2 separate regions of the Homo sapiens genome follow, and region 1 is linked to region 2. Evidence: fine-mapped expression QTL. Tissue or cell type: tibial nerve. Region 2 holds a variant in brackets; the other region holds the start of a gene. All regions are shown on one strand. Distances are from middle to middle.

Region 1 (5,162 bases), 52 kb before region 2:
ACACCGCATCTGGCCCTTTTTTTTTTTCTTTCTAATGAGGTCTCACTATGTTGGCCAGGCTGATCTCAAACTCCTGGGCTCAAGTGATCCTCCCACCTTGGCCTCCCAAAGTGCTGAGATTACAGGTATGAGCCACCATACCCAGCTCACTTTTATTCTAATTTCTGATTCCATATTGATATTGTGCTTAGATATATCAACTGTAGAGACCCTATATTCAAAGCAAGATATTTTTAAAATGTCAGCCTCCCCCAGAATGTTCCAAGATATTAAAAGAGACATTAACTCAGAATCTTTATTTCATCAGGAAAAATTTCTTCTATAAACAGTTAGTAACTCCCAAGGGCTGTCACTGGTACAATACTAAGAATATTGCCTCTGCAGAAATAAATGAATAACACATTTTTAGATGTTGGAATGATGTTATCTGCACATTATCTGTGGGAGGACAGAAGAGTCTCCATAGTCTCTACACATCATTTGCTGCTGCTTCTTTTTTTTTTTCTTTTTTGAGATAGAGTTTCCCTCTTGTCACCCAGGCTGGAGTGCAGCGGCACGATTTCAGCTCACTGCAACCTCCGCCCCCCTGGGTTCAAGTGATTCTCCTGCCTCAGACTCCCAAGTAGCTGGGATTACAGGTTCCCACCACTATACCCAGCTAATTTTTGTATTTTTAGTAGAGATGGGGTTTCACTATGCTGGCCAGGCCGGTCTTGAACTCCTGATCCACCCGCCTCAGCCTCCCAAAGTTCTGGGATTACAGGTGTGAGCCACCGCACCTGGCCATCATTTGCTTCTCAATGGCAGAACAACAATATGTGAACAGCAAGAGAGAAAATGTAAGACTAATTGCTTCAGGAAAGATAACTTTGGTACTGCAATTTAGCCATGAGGGACAAGTCTTAGTGGACAGCTGGTTCTTCATCCATCGGAAGACTGTGGTCATCTGTTCATTCTACTCTTTCTTCTCTGTGGATGAAGTTTTCCGTCATTGTCTTCACACTACCTTGACTTTCTCTGGATTCTATTGACTTAGACAGATTACTGGCTCCTAGTGGACTACTGCATCTGAGCAAATGCTTACTCCCTATTTAATTGTACCTGTCTTTACCTATTTATTCAGAGGAGCCAGCTGCCCTGGACCCCATCCCAATCTCTGTCAAAGGTCACTCTACTTCCCAACCCAATGTATCCCACATTCCTAGAAGACAGAGGCTAGGGAGAGATTAGAAGAGAGAGGTTAGAATGCCAGGATTAAAAGGCAGCTTGTTTTCTTCTTTTTCACATGTCAAACTGTTAAATGCCATTAGGCCAACTCACTTCCCAGCATGTGACAAGGACACTGCTGGCAGGGAACATCTCCTTTCTCTGACCCTCTTTTGCTCTTCTTAATCCTCAAATATTGAAGTTTTTATCTTCAGCAAATGAAGAGGTAATTTAAACTGCTTACAGAGAGAAACCGAATGGGGGAAAGGGTATATGTTGTTAGTAACCCCCCACAGTTTAAGTGTTTTTAATTGTACATATAGGTTTTCTGTTAGAAAATGACTAGAATTTTCTAAGGCAGCACTGCCTAATAGAAATATAGTGTGAGCCACACAATATAATTTTTAAGTTTTTAGTAGTCATTAAAACAAGTAGAAAGATACCAGTGGAATTTTAATAACTGTATTTCTATACTGCTGCTCCTTCTATTGAATCTAACTTAAAATTCCATGTAACCCTCACATGTGGGTATGAAAAACATTAACAGGAAATGCTAATATAGGGAGTCAGTGAAGCTGGGGTAGGAAATTGATGATGTGATACCGGAAGTGATCTGGCAGGGCTTTAAAGTAATGCCAGAGGTCCTTCCAGGCAGTTCTCAACTTGCTCCTTGGCTGTTCTCCTGACACTTAAGTCAGAGCATTCTGTAGCTGTATTTTACAGAACTGTAATTGCACAGATTGTTCCTCTTACAAGAGAAATATCCAGAGCTCTAAGAAAACAACTGATGAAAACGGTATGTACCCATTTAAGAAAATCTGCCCTCGAGATATGATGTTATGATTTATTTGAATCTTACTGTGAATTAAAGCACTATCTCAGAAGGGTTTGCATTTAGATAATGACTGTGATTGTCATTTGGCTGGCTTGAAGAAATTCAAGAAATTTAAGCCATTTTTGAGCAGAGGAGGAATTAATATGGGGGGAAGAGTATCTTTCTGTTTCTCTGTTTGCTCTGATAGGGGCCACACAGGTCGTTGCATAAGGTAAACACTAACTGTGGGGCCCATGTGATTTGTTCAGCTTTAGAAAAATAATAAAGGGGCACAGTGAAGCAGAGGTGTGGTGCTGAGCACAGGTGATGGGGTAGAGGATGACAGAGAACAATATTTCAACAAATTGAATTTAAAGATCTCATTAGCTTTTATTAGCAATTATGAGTTGGTCAGCATCCCATTCATAAAATGGAAAGACATTCCTCCAGGGTTGGCAGAACAGTTGATTTCTGTAAGGTAGCTTAAGCAAGAAGGAAATGGTGTCATGCCAAAAGTGGGTTGGTTAACATCAGATGGCTTCAGTTAACTTTCCTTGTATGGGTTAAAGCAGAGGGCCTTTCATGTTATGTCAGCTCAGGTTGACTTGGTGGCTTTGGATTGGTTGCTGAGAATCTCCTAGATTTTTTTTTTTAACTGGCCCATTTCTAAATTCAGTTTAATTATGTGGAAGCTAGAATTTATTTCATTTTGATTTGGTCCCGGCTGATGGAGCCTAGTGCAGGAATCAGTCCAAAACAGTGGCCTCCCATATTTTTTTTTTTCCTTTTTTTTAGACTGAGTCTCACTCTGTTACCCAGGCTAGAGTGCAGTGGCATGATCTTGGCTCACTGCAATCTTCACCTCCCGGGTTCAAGCAATTCTCCTGCCTCAGCCTCCCAAGTAGCTGGGACTACAGGTTTATACCACCATGCCTGGCTAATTTTTGTATTTTTAGTAGAGATGGGGTTTCACCATGTTGGCCAGGATGGTCTTGAACTTCCCAGCCTCCAGAACTGTGAGCAACAACTTTCCATTGTTTATAAATTACCCAGTATATACTATTTTGTTATAACAGCCCAAATAGACTGAGTCATTCACTATTTTTTTTTTTTTTTGAGACGGAGTCTCGCTCTGCTGCCCAGGCTGGAGTGCAGTGGTGCAATCTTGGCTCACTGCAACTCTGCCTCCTGGGTTCAAGTGATCCTCCTGCCTCAGCCTCATGAGTAGTTGGGACTACAGGTGCCTGCCACCACGTCTGGCTAATTTTTGTATTTTTAGTAGAGATGGGGTTTCACCATGTTGGCCAGGCTGGTCTTGAACTCCTGACCTCAAATGAGCCACCCACCTCAGCCTCCCAAAGTGCTGGGATTACAGGCGTGAGCCAATGTGCTCATCCAGCTTCAATTTCCAACCCCTTTCCCTTGCATAGTGATAGGAGTGGTGGATGGGGCTGAAAGTTCTAACATTCTAATCAAAAAGTGCTGGGATTACAGGCACTTTTTGATTAGAAGTGCCCGGACCCATAAATAGTATTTAACAATGGTAACTATGGTAGGCAAACATCAAAGCACACTGTTGCATTTTTTGGAGATTCTCTAGGTAGGCATCCAACTCTGGGAAAACAGAGGAAGACCATCATCATCAGAAAATAAATGTTCTAAAAAACTGTCTCTGAAAAGTGTTGCTCTTTAGTCCCTTGCTCTCCATGCTGGAGTTAATGAGTGTGAAGTCCTTTGAGAGTTACCTGTGCAGTGGAAATGGAAGGAGGAAAGTGCTCATTTACCTTTAAGGGGACAAAAGTGGAGCTCCACAAACAGATGCAAAGCAGCTGGAAGAGGGGTAGGGAGGAGGACTTTTGTTTAGAGAGTTTCCTTTTTCCAGATCTACTTTAAGTCTTTAATCCATTTGGAGTTGATATTTGTATATGGTATGAGATAAGGATCTAATTTCATTCTTCTGCATGTGGATATGCAGTTTTTCCAGCACTATTTATTGAAGAGACTCTTCTTTCCCTATTGTGTATTCTTGGCACCATTGTTAAAGATCAGTTGACTGTAAATACATGGATTTACTTCTGGGATCTCTGTTTCACTGGTCTACATGTCTGTATTTGTGCCAATACCATGCTATTTGGATTACTATAGCTTTGTAGTGTATTTTGATATCAAATAGTATGATGCTTCCAGCTTTTTTTTTTTTTTCTCTCAATATTGCTTTGGCTACTCAGGGTCATTAAGGATCCCATATGAATTTTAGAATTATTTTTTCTATTTCTGTAAAAAACACTGGAGTTTTGATAGAGATTGCATTGAATCTGTAGATTGCTTTATGTAGATAGTATAAACATTTTAACAATTCTTCCAATCTGTAAACATAGGGTATCTTTCCATTATTGGTGTCTTCGATTTCTTTCATCAGTGTTTTATAATTTTAACTGTACAGATCTTTCATGTCAGTTAAATTTATTCCTAAGTGTTTATTTATATTTTTATTTTTATTTTTATTTTTTTGAGACAGGATCTTGCTCTGTTGCCCAGGCTGGAATGAAGTGGTGCAATCACAGCTCACTGCAGCCTCAATTTCTTGGGCTCAAGCAATCCTCCCACCTCAGCTCCCCAAGAAGCTGTATCTACAAGTGTACACCATCACACCTGGCCAAATTTTAAAATTTTTGTAGAGACAAGGTCTCACTATGTTGCCCAGGCTGGTCTCCTGGGCTCAAGCAATCCTCCTACCTCAGCCTCCCAAAGTGCTGAGATTACAGGTGTGACCCACTCCACCCAGTACTAAGTTTTTTTTTTTTTTTTTTTTTTTTTAATTAAAGCTATTGTAAACGGGATTGTTTTCTTGATTTCATTTTCAGATAGGCTGTTAGTGTATAGAAATGCAGCTAATTTCTTTATGTTGATTTTGTGTCCTGCAACTTTACTAAATTTATGTATTAGTTCTTATAGATTTTTGGTGGAGTCTTTAGGGTTTTCCATATATAAGATCATGTTATCTGCAGAGGCAATTTCACCTTAATGGAAAAGACCAAAGTAATTTTTACTCTTCCTAACCTTTCATAGTAATAAATGACATTTATCGAGAGCCCACCACACAGCAGGCACTGTTCTAAGCACTTCACAGGGATCATCACAT
Region 2 (5,308 bases):
CTCAAAAATAAATAAATAAATAAATACATAAATAAATAACTGATCACAGATCTCCATGTATATATAATAATAATGAAAAAGTTAAAAATACTGTGCGAATCACCAAAATGTGACACAGAGACACGAAGTGAGCACGTGCTGTTGAAAATGGAACTGGTAGGCTTGCTTAACACAGAGCTACCACAAACTTTCCTTGTTTTTGTTTTTTGTTTTTTGTTTTTTTGAGATGGAGTTTTGCTCTTGTTGCCCAGGCTGGAGTGCAATTGCACAATCTCAGCTCACCACAACCTCCACCTCCCGGGTTCAATCAGTTCTCCTACCTCACCCTCCTGAGTAGCTGAGATTACAGGTATGCACCACCAAGCCCAGCTAATTTTGTATTTTTAGTAGAGACGGAGTTTCTCCATGCTAGGCAGGCTGGTCTTGAACTCCCGACCTCAGGTGATCCACCCGCCTTGGCCTCCCAAACTGCTGGGATTACAGGCGTGAGCCACCGTGCCCAGCCAAACCTTCCATGTTTTAAAAATGCAGTATCTGAGAAGTGCAATAAAGTGAAAAACAGTAAAACAAGGTATGCCTGTGTGTGAATGAAGAAATGGATAAAAGAATGAACCTAGACTGTACTACCAGGTACAATACCAACTCTGGTATTTAAACCATAGGGGAGCATCCCAAACCATGCCAGATAAATGAGTCATGCTCTATCAACAACAGTAAGAGTCTTTAGACTTGCTCCAGAATTGTAAGTCTACAGTGGCACTCCCTCACTTGGGCCTGTGCTGATCCTTCCTTTGGCTTTGTCTTTGCAGTTACTGACTCTCAGGCTCTGTGTCCACCTCTTTCACAGCTATGAATGGGGAAACTATCCAAGGCTGATTCTCCACTTGCTTGTGAGGTGTTCAATTTGCTTTATTTGACCATTTTTTTCTCCTAGTAAGAAGCAAGAAAATCCACCATAAGCTCTGAGGAACAATCACACCAGACTGAGCATTTTTATTTCTTGAGCCTTTGCCTAAGAAAGAGTGTGGATCATACTTTCTAATACAGTCAGGATGGAATATCAAAATGTGAGTATATCATGTCCAAGCAGCAGGTGGGGGCCCCATAAGAGAGGTGCTGGTTTAAAAGTCTTTCCCTCATGATTTTCAGATTTTCCTAATTGGGGCTACAAGTTCATATTCAGATGTTGTGTTTCTTCTGATTTTGGAATCTGTAAACCTTCCCCCTCTCCCTACGGAAGCCCTAGTTTTTGCAACAGCTCTCCATCTGCACATGCATCTCATTGTGGGGTGCAAAGGGCTGGTGGCGAGATTTTCCAGTGTGCCTGGCTAACCTGTCATAACTAAAATTTATGGAGCAAAATAGAAATGTAGGTGGTTGCTGTGTTGTCACAATGACCGTGAATTGAGTTTGGGGACTGTATGAAAATAGAGGAATATTCTTGGTTTGATGGAAATGTATAGTGTATTTTCCGGCAATTTCTCAAATTCAGTTATTCAAATCTCACATCTATTTAAGCCGGTCTATGGATCCTGTGTAGGGGATCAAATTACACAGATTGAATTCTTGACAAAATTTCTGGAAACAGGACCCTTTCAGGTTTATCAAATTCTACGTGGGTCTGTGTCTTTCATTGTCCTTGACTATTTTGCAAATCTGTAGAAATTGAAGTTAAGTGGTGGAAGGTTGGTGGTGATGTACATGATTCCTGTTCTTAGAAATAAGAATGACTTTTGTCCAATGAAGGTGTATTGATTTCCACTCTATGGAAGAGGCTAGTTTTGCATCTATAGGCAAAATTAATTCAATATTTCTGATTGCCTATATATGTGTTTTGTCCTTGAATTCTCCTTTCAACCAATTTTTACTTCTTACTGGTTTCCTTATTAAATAATAAGTGAAATAGACTGGGCGCGGTGGCTCACGCCTGTAATCCCAGCACTTTGGGAGGCCGAGGCAGGCAGATCACGAGGTCAGGAGATCGAGACCATCCTGGCTAACATGGTGAAACCCCGTCTCTACTAAAAATAGAAAAAATTAGCTGGGCGTGGTGGTGGGCACCTGTAGTCCCAGCTACTTGGGAGGCTGAGGCAAGAGAATGGCGTGAACCCGGGAGGGAGAACTTGCTGTGAGCCGAGATTGTGCCACTGCACTCCAGCCTGGGCGACAGAACGAGACTCCGTCTCAAAAAAAATAAATAAGTAAAAATAAATAAATAATAAGTGAAACAAGATTTTTGGCATTGTGTAATTGCATGGGTTTTTTAAAAATTACTCTTCAACATCCTGATTCTCCAGCAACTTATTCATTCCCAGAAGTGAGGGTGGCATTGAATGAGAGAAGAATCCTGTGTTTCTGACTCATCATTTACCCAGAAGAGAGTGAGCTGACAGAGCTATGTGAAAGGACAAGATAATGTTTACCCTTATTCCTGGACACCGAGGCTCTAAATTCGAATTTCTTTCAGTATACAGTTATAACATTACGTTTGCACAGCCACATGTGAAGATGTTGTGGTGCTCCTTTTTTTAATCTTACATTTTTAACTAATTTACTTACATAACCAAAAATGAGAAGAACAGGGAAGAATCCTGGTCTTAGAGAAGCAAGATGGAAAATTAAACGCGAGGGGATCTCTCTGTCTCTCCCTCTACCACTTATTTCTTAACCTGTTTGCACGTTAATTTCCTTCTCCCAGACTGGCTTCTCCACAAGCTGTAGACCTGCTGCTAGCATCTCAACATCTCTTAACTTATATCCTCTGTGGAAAAAACCAAGAACACCATTAGCATAAGCCTTTCAGTAATGCCGGCGTGAAAAGGAGCGTTCTAACTTGGGAAGGAGGGTGGAATTTTTTATAGGGCTTCAGCAGGCAGGGTCAGCTCAAGTTCACTTTGTTTTAAGAACAAAGATGGTTCCTAGAAAAGGAAGGAATTTTCTTTAGCAATTAGCGGTCACTGTTTGGACA[A/G]CTTGGATTTTACCAAGAGGAGTGGGAGGAACAGTCCGGTCATGTGTGAGCGGCGGGGGTGGGGAGGAACAGCTACAGTGGACAAGGACATGGAGGCCTACAGTGGAAAATTTTCATTTCTTCAGAGTCTCTTACATCTTACAGTCTCAGGACCTTTGAGAGCCTTCTCCCCACTTCAGTCAATCTGACTTGCTTATCCCTGGACCACTCACTGTGGTCAAGGAGGCAGAGTCAAAGAAGAGACTGTTTCTGGTCAGACCTGAAAGCTAGAACAGGGGGAGGAGCCACTCTTTAAAAAGAGGGAGCAGCGGGCTGGGCGCGGTGGCTCACGCCTGTAATCCCAGCACTTTGGGAGGCCGAGGCGGGAGGATCACAAGGTCAGGAGATCGAGACCATTCTGGCTAACACGGTGAAACCCCGTCTCTACTAAAAATACAAAAAATTCTCCGGGCGTGGTGGCAGGCCCTGTAGTCCCAGCTACTCCGGAGGCTGAGGCAGGAGAATGGTGTGAACCCGGGAGGCGGAGCTTGCAGTGAGCCGAGATCGCGCCACTGCACTCCAGCCTGGGCGACAGAGTGAGACTCAGTCTCAAAAAAAAAAAAAAAGGGAGCAGCCCAGACTTGGCTGATGAGGGCATCGCAGTAACAGGGCAGCCCTCGCCTTCCTCCCCATTTGTGTCTACGAAACCCTTCTTTTCCTCCTTCCAGGTGAAAGGCTCAGTGCTGCCTGTCGGGAGCACTGCTTCGAGGAGACCGATCCAGAGAACTTTCAGCCTAGGGAGTACGGCGCGCAAACCCAGCTGAGGTGAAAGTCTCATTGGGGAGCAGCTCCCAGCACAAACTGCTGAAAGGCTGGCCGCAGCCCTGCTGCCCAGATTTCTTCTTCAGCACTCTCTAACTCCCTAGAGCTTTTAAAATGTCCCCTGTGGTCACTCTGTATACCAGGGAAGACAAACGGGTTTGGCTTCATGCCTGCATTGGCAGTGCTGGGTGCCTCTTCATCCTTCTCTCTCTCCTCTTTTTGGCAGAAAAACCCTTTTCAAATATCCAAGCCCCTTCTTCTCTATAAAAAATAAGACAGATGTGAGCTATGAACATCGTTACTGGTGAAAAAATTAAGATTTAGGAAAGGAAATATCTGTCCTCATCATTTTGCCAGAAGAGCAGAGTAGTTACAGTCATGGACTTTAACTCAAAATCCACAGAATTTGAGTCCTGGCTTCCCACTTACTGATTCCGTGACCTTGGGCAAATACTTAACCTCAGTAAGCCCCAGCTTCTTATTTAGGAAATGGGGAATAACATGTACCTCAAAATTTAGGGGAATAATGCATGTAAAGAATATGCCATTGTGTCTGACATATATTAAAATCCAAAATTACAGTAATTTTTGTGATTATAAAAATGATGGTGATAACATGAAAGTAACTAATTAAATAAAATTATGTATATTAAAAATATAAAAATATGATTTTACCACCATCACCACTCCCAATATTAGCATTTTTAAAATAGAATTTTACAATTAAGACCTCAGATGATCTCACGTGGTGGTCAAGCTGTCACTTCTCTAAAGTGGCCTCAATTGCTCCAGGGCCAGAAAGTAGGAAAATTGGAACACAGGAGCGCTGGGCATGACGTCTCATGCCTGTGATCCCAGCAATTTGGGAGGCTGAGGTGGGCAGATCACTTGAGGTCAGGAGTTCAAGACCAGCCTGGCTAACACGGTGAAACCCTGTCTCTACTAAAAATACAAAAATTAGCCAGGGCGTGGTGGCAGGTGCCTGTAATCCCAGCTACTTGGGAGGCTGAAGAAGGAGAATTGCTTGAACCTGGGAGGCAGAGGTTGCAGTGAGCTGAGATGGCACCACTGCACTCCAGCCTGGGCAACAGAGTGAGACTCTGTCAAAAAGAAAGATGAAAGAAAGAAGAAAGAAAAGAAAAGAAAGAAAGAAAGAAGAAGGAAAGAACAGAAAGAAAGAAAGAAAAAGAAAAGAAAGAAAGAAAAAGAAAGAAAGAAAAAAGAAAGAAAGAAAGAAAGAAAGAAAGAAAGAAAGAAAGAAAGAAAGAAAGAAAGAAAGAAAGGGAGGGAGGGAGGGAGGGAGGGAGGGAGGGAAGGAGGGAGGGAGGAAGGAAGGAAGGAAGAAAGAGAGAAAAAAAGAAACACAGGAAACCTCTGCCCTGAAGAATGGGGTACGTAGACCAGGGACCAGGTCCCCTCATTTCAGTGTTACCTCCAGGCTCTGTGTGTGTGTGTGTGTGTGTGTGTGTGTGTGTGTGTGTGTGTGTGTGAAGGCAGGGGTGGGGTGAGCATGTGTGCACGTGGGGATGTGTATGTGTG

The links. PIP is the estimated chance that this variant, and not a neighbour inherited with it, causes the effect.
Region 1: LNCOG starts here. The variant in region 2 is fine-mapped to the expression of LNCOG in tibial nerve (GTEx, PIP above 0.99).

The regions. Positions count from the first base shown.
Region 1 is chr12:76,257,980-76,263,141 of GRCh38, forward strand. It overlaps LNCOG (lncRNA osteogenesis associated), which reads left to right and starts at 1,904. Exons shown (of 4, transcript NR_146531.1): 1 at 1,904-2,002.
Region 2 is chr12:76,309,606-76,314,913 of GRCh38, forward strand. No RefSeq gene overlaps it. Among named protein-coding and RNA genes, the nearest start is that of BBS10, 36 kb to the right of the region's middle. The variant A/G (reference allele first, on the strand shown) is at 2,969.